Regions from separate parts of the Homo sapiens genome. Here all the other regions are linked to region 2. Evidence: fine-mapped expression QTL. A gene starts in region 2. Each other region holds a variant in brackets. All regions are shown on one strand. Distances are from middle to middle.

Region 1 (4,348 bases), 47 kb before region 2:
CCTGGTAAGCTGGTAGCCTCTCTGGGGAGAGTACAGCTCTGTCTCCGCGAAGCCTGAAGACACACAAGAGATCTCTTAAGGTGTCCAGCCTGGCCAACACAGTGAAACCCCATCTCTAACAAAAACACAAAAATTAGCTGGGTGTGGTCACGGGCACCTGTAATCCCAGCTACTTGGGAGACTGAGGCACAAGAATCCCTTGAACCCAGGAGGCAGATGTTGTAGTGAGCTGAGATTGTGCCACTGCACTCCAGCCTGGTGACAAAGTGAGACTGTCTTAAAAAAAAAAACTCTCTTAAGGTGACAAAGGATGCATAAGTAACACTGGCTTTGTACAAGCACTGTCTTGGAGGAAAGCACACTAAACTACGGGGTCAGAAGCCCAGGTTCTGGTCCAAGGTCTACCAGACATCATTCCTCACAGCCTGTTTCCGCAGAGCCGATGGTGGCTATGAATGAAGGACCTCTGAGAAAAACAAAGCTCATCACGAATGCAAGCCTGGCCATCCTTGCTGGCCTGTGCCACACAGACACTCAAGTAGTTGTGCCACTGCAGGAAGACCGAGCTCTGTGAGTGCAGCCATGGGCAAGGCAGGAGGGGCCAAAGGATCCAGGCCCCAGAAAGGAAACATGTGCAGTGGCTGAAGGAATGGGTCCTGTGGCCAGACTGCCTGGTTTCCCATCCCAGTCCCACCCTGCTGCCCGTGTAATTCCTGTGGACAACTTAGTAAACATCTCTTGGCCTCAAGTCCTTCATCTGTGAAATGATGCTAATAATAATAGCACTTACCTTGTAGGACTGTGATGATGTTTAGGTAAGTATCCATGGAATGTTCTTGGCATGATTTCTGACTCTTACTAAATAATCATGTTAGCAATTATTCTTATCTGGAGTCAGACCACCTGTTTTGCATCCAGGCCGTTCCGCCTACTAGCTGCGTGATTTGGGACACGTCAAACCAAATCTCTCTCAACTTTTCTGTAAAATAAGATGAGCAATCCCTTTATTGCAGAGTTAGTTGTTTAGAGAATTCTGTGAGAATGTATATAAAAAGCACCTTGCAATCTCTCCCATGCTATTTCTCTTCCACAGCCAATTCTGCATAGGAGAACCTTAAAAAGCCAAATGCAGACAGGAAAAATCTGGGGGAGGGACAGAGGCAGGTGCAGGCAGTAACCCTTCGATCATGAACCTCTTGTCCGGCCAAGCACACAGGAATTTCATGTACAATTTGGCAGCTCCAGAGGCTCCCAGGTCCAGCTGGGTCTAGGCCCTACTGGATCTGCTAAGTAGCGAGCTGAAGCCCAGTGCCAATTCCTAGGGGCCTGGGAACTGAGGCCAAGCCGAGACTTGCCTGCCTCATTCCCCAAATGGCCAGAGGTGCCTGGACTGGGCAGTTAGTTCCCCTTAAGAAAATCTTCAGACCACCCAGGAAAGGTTTGGCGATATGGACCACATTGGCCCAGAGCTAGGAAGGCCCTGGACTGCACCTTCACAGGGCAACAAACTGACTGTTCAGTTCATCCCGCCTCACCCAGCCTCCTGACCTGGACTTTGAGCAGGCGCTTGCTCAGGCCCACTCTCCACGCAGTCATCTTGGGCCCTCTCCTCCCTGTGCCACACACATAATTGTGTCTGTAACCAACAGTGCACTAAAGACAAAATTAGGCAGGACAGCAACCACAAAGACCCCCTTCCTAAAACACCTGGGGATTGCTACTGGTTCCAGATTTAAAATAATCGGAAATGACCACTTCTCCCTGCCTTGGGGTTAAAAAGAAAAGAAGAAAGAAGGCCAGGTATGGTGGCTCACACCTGTAGTCCAAGCACTTTGGGAGGCTGAGGTGGGAGGACTGCTTGAGCCCAGGGTTTCAAAACCAATCTGGGTAACATGGCAAGACCCCGTCATTACAAAAAAAAAAAAAATTAGCCAGGCGTGGTGGCATGTGCTGTTAATCTGAGCTACTCGGGAGGATTGCTTGAGCCCAGGAGATCAAGTCTGCAGTGAGCC[A/G]TGTTTATGCCACTACACTTTAGCCTGAAGCCTGGGTAACAGAGCAAGATCGTGTCTAAAATAAAATAAAATAAAATTAAATTAAATTAAAAAGTCCACCACCATTAGAGCCCTTAATCTTACCTCCCAGGTGTGAGGAGCACTAACCTACAGTAGACAGAGATTCAAAGGCAGTGGCCATGCTTACAGGTTGGCTTAGTCTTTTTATCCTGTTCTCATGTCCTTTCTAACCACAGGTGTCTGTTAGGAGCTCCTCCAGGGCAGTCCAGTCCCCCTGGGCTTAGATCCCAGCCTTGCTACTAACTGACTAGGTAGGTGCCTGACCCTCCTCTGGGTCTTTCAAGGTAGCAAGAGTCTCAGAAGCAGTTTTTCCTTCTGCTCTCAATACCCCACTGATACCTCCTCATTCACGGGTGACCTCAGGACCCAACTCACTGTTACCATCTCCATCTGCTTTTGCAACTTTACCAGCCACACAGATGAGCCATCCAAAACCCCAGCCACTCAGCTCTGAATCTACTTGGCTCCAGTGACTTTCCCCTTCACACCAATAGCAGCTGCCAACTGCCATGGTTATACCTGTCATCAGAGACTTCACCACCTCCCTAAGACTGCCAATGTCTCTTCTCTGGTCATAGCCTCTTTATTTCTATCCCTCTGATTCTAAAACTCCATAATTCTCTCATTTTCCAATCTGAGACACCTATTTTCTACCTCTCCTCTCCTCATCACTCTCCATAAAGACCTGAACACTTCTCTCCGAGGGAAAAATGCTACACCTGCCACGCGGTGCTGCACCCACCAGCACCTGTCCCCACAGACTCCCATTAGGGTGGAAGAAAGTCATGTTCCACCCTACGCTCGATCCCTGCAATGGTCACTGGGCCCTAGCCCTTTTAGCCTTCTCAAGGATTTCTTCCAGCGCATCTCCTTTTACTCTAGAATGGTCAATTTCTCCTTCTTTGGTGGATCACTCATATTGACGAATAAAGATGCCTAGTATCATCCATCTTTCTAAAAAAAGTTCTCTGGTGCCATTTCCCTCCCCTGCCACCACTCCATCTCTGTGCCCCTCACAGCAAAATCCTCCAGAGTTGCCTCCACTTGGCCTCCACTGACTCACCTCACATCCATTCTACACCCATTTCAATAGGGCTCCTGTCCTCAACACGCCTCCAAGTTTCTATCAGGGTCACAACTGACATGCAGCTTTTCAGAGGTAATGGGCAATTTTCCATCTCGCTGTTTCTCCGCAGCATCTGATATGCCTGACTACACCAGCCTGAAAGGTGTCCATTGAACTGGTCACTTGGGTGTCCTGCCACCTGGGCCATGTAGTCTCCTCCTTCTCCAGTGGAGAAAATGGGCCCTACACCTTGCAGGGCCCCAGAACAATGGTCTCAGCCAGCCCCTTTGCTATCCACACTCTGCCGCTAGATCTTAACTTTCCATCCCAAGAGAACGAGGATATATATATATATGTATACATATATACATACACACACACACACACACACACACACACACACATATATATCATACATATAATTTATTTGAGACAAGGTCTCTGTCACCCAGGCTGGAGTGCAGTGACACAATCAGAGCTCACCACAGCCTCCACCTCCCAGGCTCAATCCCTTGCACCTCTGCCTCCTGAGTAGCTGGGACTATAGGCATGCACCACCACGCCCAGCTAATTTTTGTATTTTATAGACACGGGGTTTGCCATGTTGCCGAAACTCCTGAGCTCAAGCAATCCACTCACCTCGGCTTCCCAAAGTGTTGGGATTATAGGCGTGAGCTACCTGCCAGGCCCATAAATATTTTTAATCCTTGAATCTCTCTTCCTGCAACAATTTGGCAGGACAAAGTAAGCGGTGGAAAGGAAAAAGGGAAGTAACATATTCTCAAGGTTAGAAAGTTTTGCAGTATCATGAAAATGCTGACAATCACGAGGATCATTTATAGCAAGCTGGCCACTCCTCCAGTTTGGGCTCCACCCAGTTTTACTATCTGAACAGTGGACAGAAATATCACTTGAAAGAATAATATTCACTCTGTAACAGGAATCAGGAATGCAGAAATGAAGAAAAACAGTCCCTAAAGTTTTCAGTCATAAATCTGATGGCAGGAAGCACAAACAACAAACTTGTCTTGTTTTACTGCTTAAAACATAATAAGCCAGTAAACATAAGTTTCACTTATAGTCATGTTGTGGGACAGATTTATCATCTGTACCGTGATAACTACACATTACACCTCATATCTTGAGCAGTGAGTTCAGTCTGACTGCACACACCAGAGGAAAGGTGACATTTATGAACTAGAATGGCTGA
Region 2 (4,000 bases):
ATAATAACACCGATCTCATGTGGGTCTTAACACTGACTGGCAATCCTATTAGGTTTCCCAAGTCCACCTGCTTTGTTAGCTTTTTCATACCTCTTCTTTCTCCTCAAACTTCCAATATATTCTTCTCCATCTTCACCCATAAACAATGCCCTTGCTTCTTCCTTCACTGAGAAAATGGATGTAACAGTGCCCTCTATCACGCCTACCCATCTGATTGCACGGATGTGCCTCCCGTCTACCTTCCCTCCTACTTCTGTGACGGTACCACCTGCTGCTCTCTAGAGCCACAACAGAGTTTCAAAGCATCCCGGCAGCGGAGGGAGACTAGCTAGATTTCATGGAGGGCCCTGAAAAATTAGACATCAATACCCTGGCGACTGGATCATGGTAGATAACATGGTGCAGACTACAGTCTGCAGGGTGCTAAGATTTCCTTATCACCTAGTTTCCAAATTTGGCTCTATACAACTCTCACATGGCCAGATAACTCTCAAGCCAGAGGCGGAAAGATGCACAGGTGAAGGTTTCCTTACAAAATGGCTGGCAGGTAATAACTCTCAGCAGAAAGTTGGGTACAACTGGTTTATACTCGATGAAGTTTTATGTGAACAAGAAATGCTGATAACACCCATGCACGTTCTGTCTGGAATCCAATGCATGCCTTCCTTGTCCAATTTAGAGGTATTTTTAGTGGAGGGTGGTTATCCAACCCGTACTATAAAACGTGGACAAGAGAAGCCAGGTTCTTAAATATATCCTGTGTGGCAGCTACATGCAGGCACATTTGCAGCTGAAGTTTGACAATAACTCTTCCTACTGCTATTAAAACTGTAAGCAAACTTAGGGCAGGGTCCCTGCATCTACCATTATGTCTAGCTCATGAGCAGCACATAGTGGGCTTTTTTAAAAAGTTCATTTAACTAATAAACCAATGAGTGAAGAAGACTTGGGGAAGCAGGATTGCGTGACGGTGTTAAGCTGTGTGAAAACTGTTACTTTAGCCATAAAAGTACCGAAAATAGCACAGACATCACCTTTCGCATATATACTTAAAGTTTACTGCCGTCCTGGGAGGCAGGGAAGGGGTAGCAGGTGGCCAGCCATGTCTGCAGAAGGGGAAACTGAGGCTCCGGCCGCCTGTGGCCCGAATGAACAGGCTCGGGCTCGGTGTTCTTGGGCCCCCCGGGAGCAGACCCAGCACAGGCGGGCTCCCGCCGGCTCACTCACCTCGCCAGCTGTGTTGGCCAAAGCAATGAGATCCCGCTTGGGCGACCAGACCAGGAAAATAATCTCCTGCGGGAGCTGCTTCTCTCCCACCACCCGGAAGGATGGGAAACAGGTCGGAAAACGCAACATGGGGACGGCCCTGCAACGACACCCCAGTCAGAGGCCGGCAGGAGCCCCCGGCTCTCCACGAGGAGCCCCGACCGCGCCTGTACCTGCAAGAGTCCCCACCGGCAGACTAACACGGCCCCAGTGGCCTCTCCCCTCCCTCTGCCGGCCGCGCGCCACAGCCTCCAGGCCGCCCCGCCCCGCCGCTGTCGCGCGCTCCAGGCACTTCCGGCGTCGGGACTGCCTCGCGAGAGGAGGAGGAGGGGCGGGGCGCGCACCGGTCTTGGGGGTGCTGAGAGCCAGAAGGGGCGGACAGGGACGGGGCGCGGTGGGCGGGGCAGGGAGGAGCGAGGGGCGGATCGAGGTGGGGGTAGGATGGGGCCCGTGGGCGGGGCAGGGAGCAGCGATGGGGCAGAGCTAGGAAGGGTGGGGCACGCGGGCGGGGCAGGGAGCCCCGAGGGGCGCGGAGAGGGAGGGAGCCGCGCGCCGGACCCAGGTGCTGGTGGGATCGCTGGGCGCCGGGACCTGAAAGGGCCCGAGAAGGGCGGGGCAGGCCCCTGCGGCCACACGCAGGTCTTTTGGGAACCCGTGTGTGCACGTGTGTGGGCATGCTTGCATACCTTTCCCGTTTTCCCGGAAATTCTCTGCTGTGGGCAAAGGGACGGTAGGGGTTTATGGGGTAGGCTTCAGCGACAACGGGGAGATGAAAAAGAATATGAACTTTAGGTCCTGATCAGCTGGCGCCTCCTCTAACAGTTACTAAGCGAGTAGTTCTCATGTCAGTCCTGGTGGGTCAGTATAGAATTTTAAAAGTCCCCCTGTCCAAGCAGCACCCCAAACCAATTAGAAGAAAATTAACCCTGGATGGGCCCAGTATTTACTAAAACTCTTTGGGTGATTCCAATTTGGAGAGAAGAGGCGCGTGCCCTAAAACCTCCCTAACAGGCAAATAATACTGTGACATCTCATCCCATTTAACCCTCACAACTTATTGGTAGTTGCAGCACCGTCATAACGAATAAAGAGTGTGGGCTCAGGGCCGGGCGCGGTGGCTCACGCCTGTAATCCCAGCACTTTGGGAGGCCGTGGCGGACGGATCACAAGGACAGGAGATAGAGCCCATCCTGGCTAACATGGTGAAACCCCGTCTCTACTAAAAAATACAAAAAAGTAGCCAGGCATGGTGGCGGGCACCTGTAGTCCCATCTACTGGGGAGGCTGAGGCAGGAGAATGGCGTGAACCCGGGAGGCGGAGCTTGCAGTGAGGCGGAGCTTGCAGTGAGGCGGGGCTTGCAGTGAGGCGGAGCTTGCAGTGAGCCGAGATTGTGCCACTGCACTCCAGCCTGGGCAACAGAGCCAGACTCCGTCTCTAAAATATAAAAAAAGAGTGTGGGCTCACACACGATTTCTTCTATAGGTACTTGGGCATTTACTATGTGGAGGAACTGAGGCTACAGCAATGCATGGGACGGGAACTCTGCCCAGAGGCTCACAGGCCAGCCTGGCAGACTTGTAAATCAGAACTCATCTGATGTTGCTTTATGTAGGACACATTTAAATGAGTCAACCTGTTGACAGTTCCCACAGCTATGACCTCCCTAAGAGAATGTGACAGTACCATCCTAGGGTTCTTAAACTTAAAACCTATGGTAGAAAGCCATCTACTTTTTACTACCTTTCACTTGTTCAAAGAAGAAACAGACGGCAGGTCCTTTAACTTTCAACAGGCCCCATCTTCTTGACCTCTGTCTGGATCTAGCCCCTGGGAAGTAGATGACGGAGGGAGACTAATTCATTCAGCATCAAGTAACTATTTTGTGCCAAGTACTGTTCTTAATCCTTGACTTTATACCTACCCTGCTTCCTGTCACGGGCTTTGCAGCCCTTGCCTTTGCCACAAACAACTTACCAAGTGCCCCCAACTCTTCCAGAATCAACATTTCTAAGGTAAAAATGCATTTGCCTTTGTTTTTCACAAAATGCATTTTCAGGTGTTAGTGTTTTGGGGCAGTTATAATGGATCACCTGGTGGGGGTCTAGTATCTATGCACATTAACCTTCTTACGGAAATTGAATGTCCATTTTCCTGGAACTTACCTGAATACAAACACCCATACAGCACGTGAAAATCACTGTTCCCAGAGGCATAAACACCGTACTGCAAAGGACAGAGTATAACCACCTGCACATTAAGTCTTCACAGAATATAAATTTTCTAAGCCTTACAGCAAAGGAAACAGCCTAAGTGTGGAGTTCCAGATGTGGGCAGGAAACAGCAGAGTTTTATGCTGCTATAGACCAGGGGTGTCCAATCTTTTGTCTTCCCACATTAGAATCGTCTTGGGCTACACATTAAATACATTAACAGTAATGACAGCTGATGAGCTAAAAAAAAAAAATCACAAAAAAAATCTCACAATGTTTTAAGAAAGTTTATGAATTTGTGTTGGGCTGCATTCAAAGCCCTCCTGGGCCACAGGCTGCGAGTTAGACAAGCTTGCTATAGACCCTCATGTGTGTTGGTAGGCAGTAAGGGGCAGGAATTGTTCTTGGAAATGATCCAAAGTAGCCGTAAGACAAGAAATATTAACACATCGTGTTTCCAGCCTTTTCTTTTTCCCACTGCCCCATAAAGATTTTAGCTCTACCTACTCCGTTTTTTGCCTCC
Region 3 (4,348 bases), 21 kb before region 2:
CTGTGCACACTCATTACCTCATCCAGTCCCATGGCTTTAAATAACACCAATGTGCTGATGGCTCCCAAATGCACATTTCCAGCCTGGACCCCTCCCTTGAACGCTAGTCTCACATAACTAACACTGTGCTGGACAGCTCCACCTGCAGATCTAATGGGCATTTCAAATTCCATACATCTAACACACTGACAGGGTGGCCGAAATTAACATCACTGAGAGGGGTGGATGACGGACACTGTGTGTGCTGCTGGATATGACAACTTGAGAAGGACATACCAATTATGTAGTATTTCTGGCCAGGGATGCATAACCTAAATATAATCATTAAAAAAAATCAGATAACCCTAAAATGAGAAACATAAAAAAAGATACACAGACATACATATACATACATACATGATGTGCTTCTTAAAGAAATGTCAACTTTTATAAAAGACCAAGAAAATTTAAGAAACTGCTCAAAATTAAAGAGACACAGCAACTAAAACAAATACGTGATCCCGAACTGCATCTTATCATACTGGACATATTGGGATAACTGCTAAAGGGGAATTGAACTGTAGGTTAATATACTGTATTAATGTTAAAAATTCCTAAATTTGTTAACTGTACTGTGGTTATGTAAGAAAATAATTTTATTCTTAGAAAATACGCACTAAAGTATTCCAGGTAAAAGGCACCTGATATAAACAACATACTCTCACATGTTTCAGAAAAGATAAATTATATGATAAATACAGTATAATATTTTTAAATGATGAATCAAGTAAAGGAGTACTAGCAGAGTTGTCTCTATTATTCTTGTAATTTTTATGTAAAATTACTTCAAAATAGTAAGTCTAAAGAACAATCTAGTATGTCCAAACCAAACTCTTGATCTTACTCTACACTCCCCCTCCCTAAACCTGCCCTCACATTTGTTCCCCCTTTCAGTAAATATCAATTCTACTCTTTCAAGTACCAAGGCCCTAAACTCATAATTATCTATGACTCCCTTATTATCACCATCTACAGATAAGCATTGAGAAAATCTTGTTAATTACATTCTCAAAATATATCCCAATCCTGACCACTTCAGATTCTGACCACCATTTCTCTCTTGGCTTCTGTCCTTGCCTATCTATGAGCTATTCTCAACTCTGAGCAGCAAGAGGGATCTTTCTGAAGCCTAAATCATATCCTCTCCACTACTCCCAAATCCCCAAGGGCTTCTCTTTACATCCAGAGTAAAGGCCAAAGTCCTAACAACTGCCCACAGACTCTATGCAACCTGGCCATCCTCTATCACCTGTCAATCCACCTCCTACCTTACTCTCATTCAATCTGCTTCAGCTATAGTGCCCTTGTCCCTGCAACATGCCAGGCATGCTCCAAACTCAGGGCCTTCACACTTGCTGCCCCTTCCACCCCCAAATATCAACAGGGCTTGCTCCCTTCCGTCTCCTTCCAACTTCACCTTCTCAGTGAGGCCTCCCTGACCACCTATATAAAGTTGAATCCCCTACCTTATCATGCCCTAGGTCCTTGTTTCTTGCTTGGTTTTTCTCAACATTACTTATCACTGTATTTAAAACATAGTTAAGTGCTCAACAAATGTTTACTGACATTTGACAATAATCAAAAAACTCTCAGAAAATCAAAAAGACAAAGATATGAAAAATGTAAGAGAAAAAGAAAAGACACAGAAATCAATCCACCACAAATTCTAATATCTGACCAAACAGATTTCTAGAACAAAAATCTAGTTTAAAACAAAGAGAAAGCTTGGC[G/A]TAATGGCATACTCCTGTAGTCCCAGCTCCTCAGGAGGCTGAGGCAAGAGGATCACTTGAGCCCAGGAGCTCAAGTCCAGCCTGGGCAACATAGAAAGACCCCATCGCAAAAATAAATAAATAATAATAAAGTAAATAAAAGAGGGAGGAGTAAATTATTAAAAGAATAATACAAGAGAATTCAGGTTAAAATGGCTTATTATAGCACAATGAATTAAAAGGCCCACACCCAAAAACACTGTTATGAAATTTCAACATATCAAGAATAAAGAGTAATGCTTTTACAGCTTTTTCAAAACGAAAAAAAAAAAAAACTATAAAGGGCTAAGAATTAGAAGCACCAGACCTTCCATCAGCAACAAAAAGCACAGAATCCTATGGAACTCTGCTTTTGAAGTTCTATGTGAAAACCAATAACCCTCAGGGAATCCTAAAGCCAGCTGTCAATTAAGTGTGAGGGTAGGAGAAAAAACACAAAAGGAGATAAAGTTTACCTTCTATGTCTGCTTTTTGAGAAAGTTACTAGAGGATGTTTTCCAGCAAAATGATTAAATAAGCCAAGAAACAAAGGCAATCCTGGCAGTTCTGGGTCTAACCCAGGAGAGTAATGAAGAAAATGCCCGGGTGGTAGCCGTGCAGGAGAACTGGACCACAGCTGCAGGCTGAAGCAGAGGGGTGGGAGGCTAAGGAAGGCATCTGGAACAGGGGACTCCAGAGGTACTACACCACCCTTCAGAAGGGAAAGGACGGAAGGATGCAGAAAAAACAGACAATGCAAGAAAACAAGCAAGCCTAACAGTCTAAGAAAAACAAAACAAAGAGAATAACTTCTAAAAATTGACAAAAGAAATGTGGCATAGTCATACAATTTAGAAATATGGAGGTAACCCATAGAAGAACTAAAAATAGAAGTAGTTAAAGAGTTAAAATGATTCCCTCTGGCGAGAAGACCTGAGGTAAGGATGACCAGGACAGGAAAATACAGCTTTACTTTATAAATTCTCTGTGCTGCTGGCTTTTCGGAACCATATAAAGGCATAATTGTGATAAAAATTTAAAAACTGATTTTAAGAGAATCATAACAGCTTACTAGGTTCTTATTTAGGTCAAAAGTGACATATTCTTAGGTCAGTGATTCCAGGTACTCCCAATACTTACTGAAGAAGTTCATTTGCCTTGAGTATAAAAGAACCCACAGCAGTTATAGCTTCTAAAGGGAAAAAATAAATAAACGTCATTTGTCAAATAAGTAAACTGTGTTTAATGTATTTCACTGAGAAATTAAATCACTACCTTCGATTCCTGCAGCATCTAGTCCAAGAGGTTCATATTTTTGCTTCCATGAAGCCATTCCTTTCAATTCACTCAAATGGTATAATAAAGACTCCGAGCCACTATCCAAACAGAGCAGAAATAAATTAGTATCATGACGATCATCAAGTGACTAACTTGCCTGAATATTTCTAAATTTTCAGAAATAAAAACTGAAAGTAACTTTCATTTTGTTTCCATGAGAAATAATTATTTCTCAAAACTGTTCCTAAAAACTGCAGCAGAACCATCTGGTCAATGTGACTACAGAGATAAACAAATGACAAGATCAAATTTTGTAAGATGATCAAATTGTGTTCCACAGTTAGTCCTGACCCTTTTAAGACAGTTGTACAGCCATCTTGTTCACCCAACTACTACACAGTCAATGTTCAATAAATATTTCTTAAGTTCCCATTTTGGGTCAGGTACCGTGCTATATACTGGGGACATAACGGTGAACACAATCAAAGGGTCTCATGGCATTGACAGTATAACAGGGAAGACAGTCATGATCGCATAGTCATACAGTGTACCATTCCAACTACTATAAATGCCTTGAAGGAAACACATGGGGTGCAGGTATAACAGAAGAACCTGAGCTAATCTGGGATTCAGAAAGGCTTTTCTGAAGGAATGAATGAGCTGAGAGCTGAAGAATGCATGTGAAGAACAAGTTGGGACAAGAGGAATATGCAAAAGCCCTAGGCAGGAGACAAAATGTCAAGTTGGAGAAACTAAATGGCCATCAGTGTGGGCGAGGCAGAGAGGCAGGTATGCTAAAGGCCACACAAAGGTCTCCATTCTAACGGAAGGCATTAGAAGTTTTTAAGAGAGAAATATGTTTAGCTCTACTGGGGAAAATACATTCAAAGGACAGTGTGTACTGAAAGAGCCCAACTAGTCCAGAGGGTGCTACAGTGGTCCAAGGGAGGGGTGATGTAGTTAGGGCCAGGGACTCAGCATAAAGGAATATACCAAAATTTAAACCAAACACCACCAGGTGTGGTGGCTCATGCCTGTAATCCCAGCACTTTGGGAGGCCGAGGCAGGTGGATCACTTGCGGTCAGGAGCTTGAGGCCAGTCTGGCCAACACGGTGAAACCCCGTCTCTACTAAAAATACAAAAATTAGCCAGGCGTAGTGGTTTGCGCCTGTAATCCCAGCTACTTGAGAGGCTGAGGCAGGAGAATCGCTTGAACCCGGGAGGCGGAGGTTGCAGTGAGCCGAGATCACATCACTGCACTCCAGCCTCGGCAAGACTCCAT

Alleles and levels. Alleles are on the strand shown, and positions count from the first base shown. SD is a standard deviation of normalised expression in the study named. Not every link is listed here.
With allele G in place of A in region 3, the expression in follicular helper T cells of the gene that starts at base 1,521 in region 2 is higher (large effect, 1.3 SD a copy in Schmiedel 2018).

Evidence for each region. PIP is the estimated chance that this variant, and not a neighbour inherited with it, causes the effect. A credible set is the group of variants that fine-mapping cannot tell apart.
Region 1: its variant is the best candidate, but not a certain one, in a credible set for the expression of ANAPC4 in lung (GTEx, PIP 0.52).
Region 3: its variant is the best candidate, but not a certain one, in a credible set for the expression of ANAPC4 in follicular helper T cells (Schmiedel 2018, PIP 0.76).

What each region holds. Positions count from the first base shown.
Region 1 is chr4:25,421,948-25,426,295 of GRCh38, reverse strand. LOC105374536 (a long non-coding RNA gene) reads right to left here and starts at 1,831. Exons shown (of 4, transcript XR_925494.3): 1 at 791-1,831. The variant A/G (reference allele first, on the strand shown) is at 2,013.
Region 2 is chr4:25,374,784-25,378,783 of GRCh38, reverse strand. ANAPC4 (anaphase promoting complex subunit 4) reads right to left here and starts at 1,521. Exons shown (of 29, transcript NM_013367.3): 1 at 1,440-1,521; 2 at 1,228-1,366. The coding sequence starts at 1,356. RefSeq lists enhancers at 1,119-1,188, 1,219-1,278 and a silencer at 1,399-1,818.
Region 3 is chr4:25,395,479-25,399,826 of GRCh38, reverse strand. ANAPC4 (anaphase promoting complex subunit 4) reads right to left here. Exons shown (of 29, transcript NM_013367.3): 15 at 3,063-3,163; 16 at 2,928-2,979. Among named protein-coding and RNA genes, the nearest start is that of ANAPC4, 20 kb to the right of the region's middle. The variant G/A (reference allele first, on the strand shown) is at 1,770.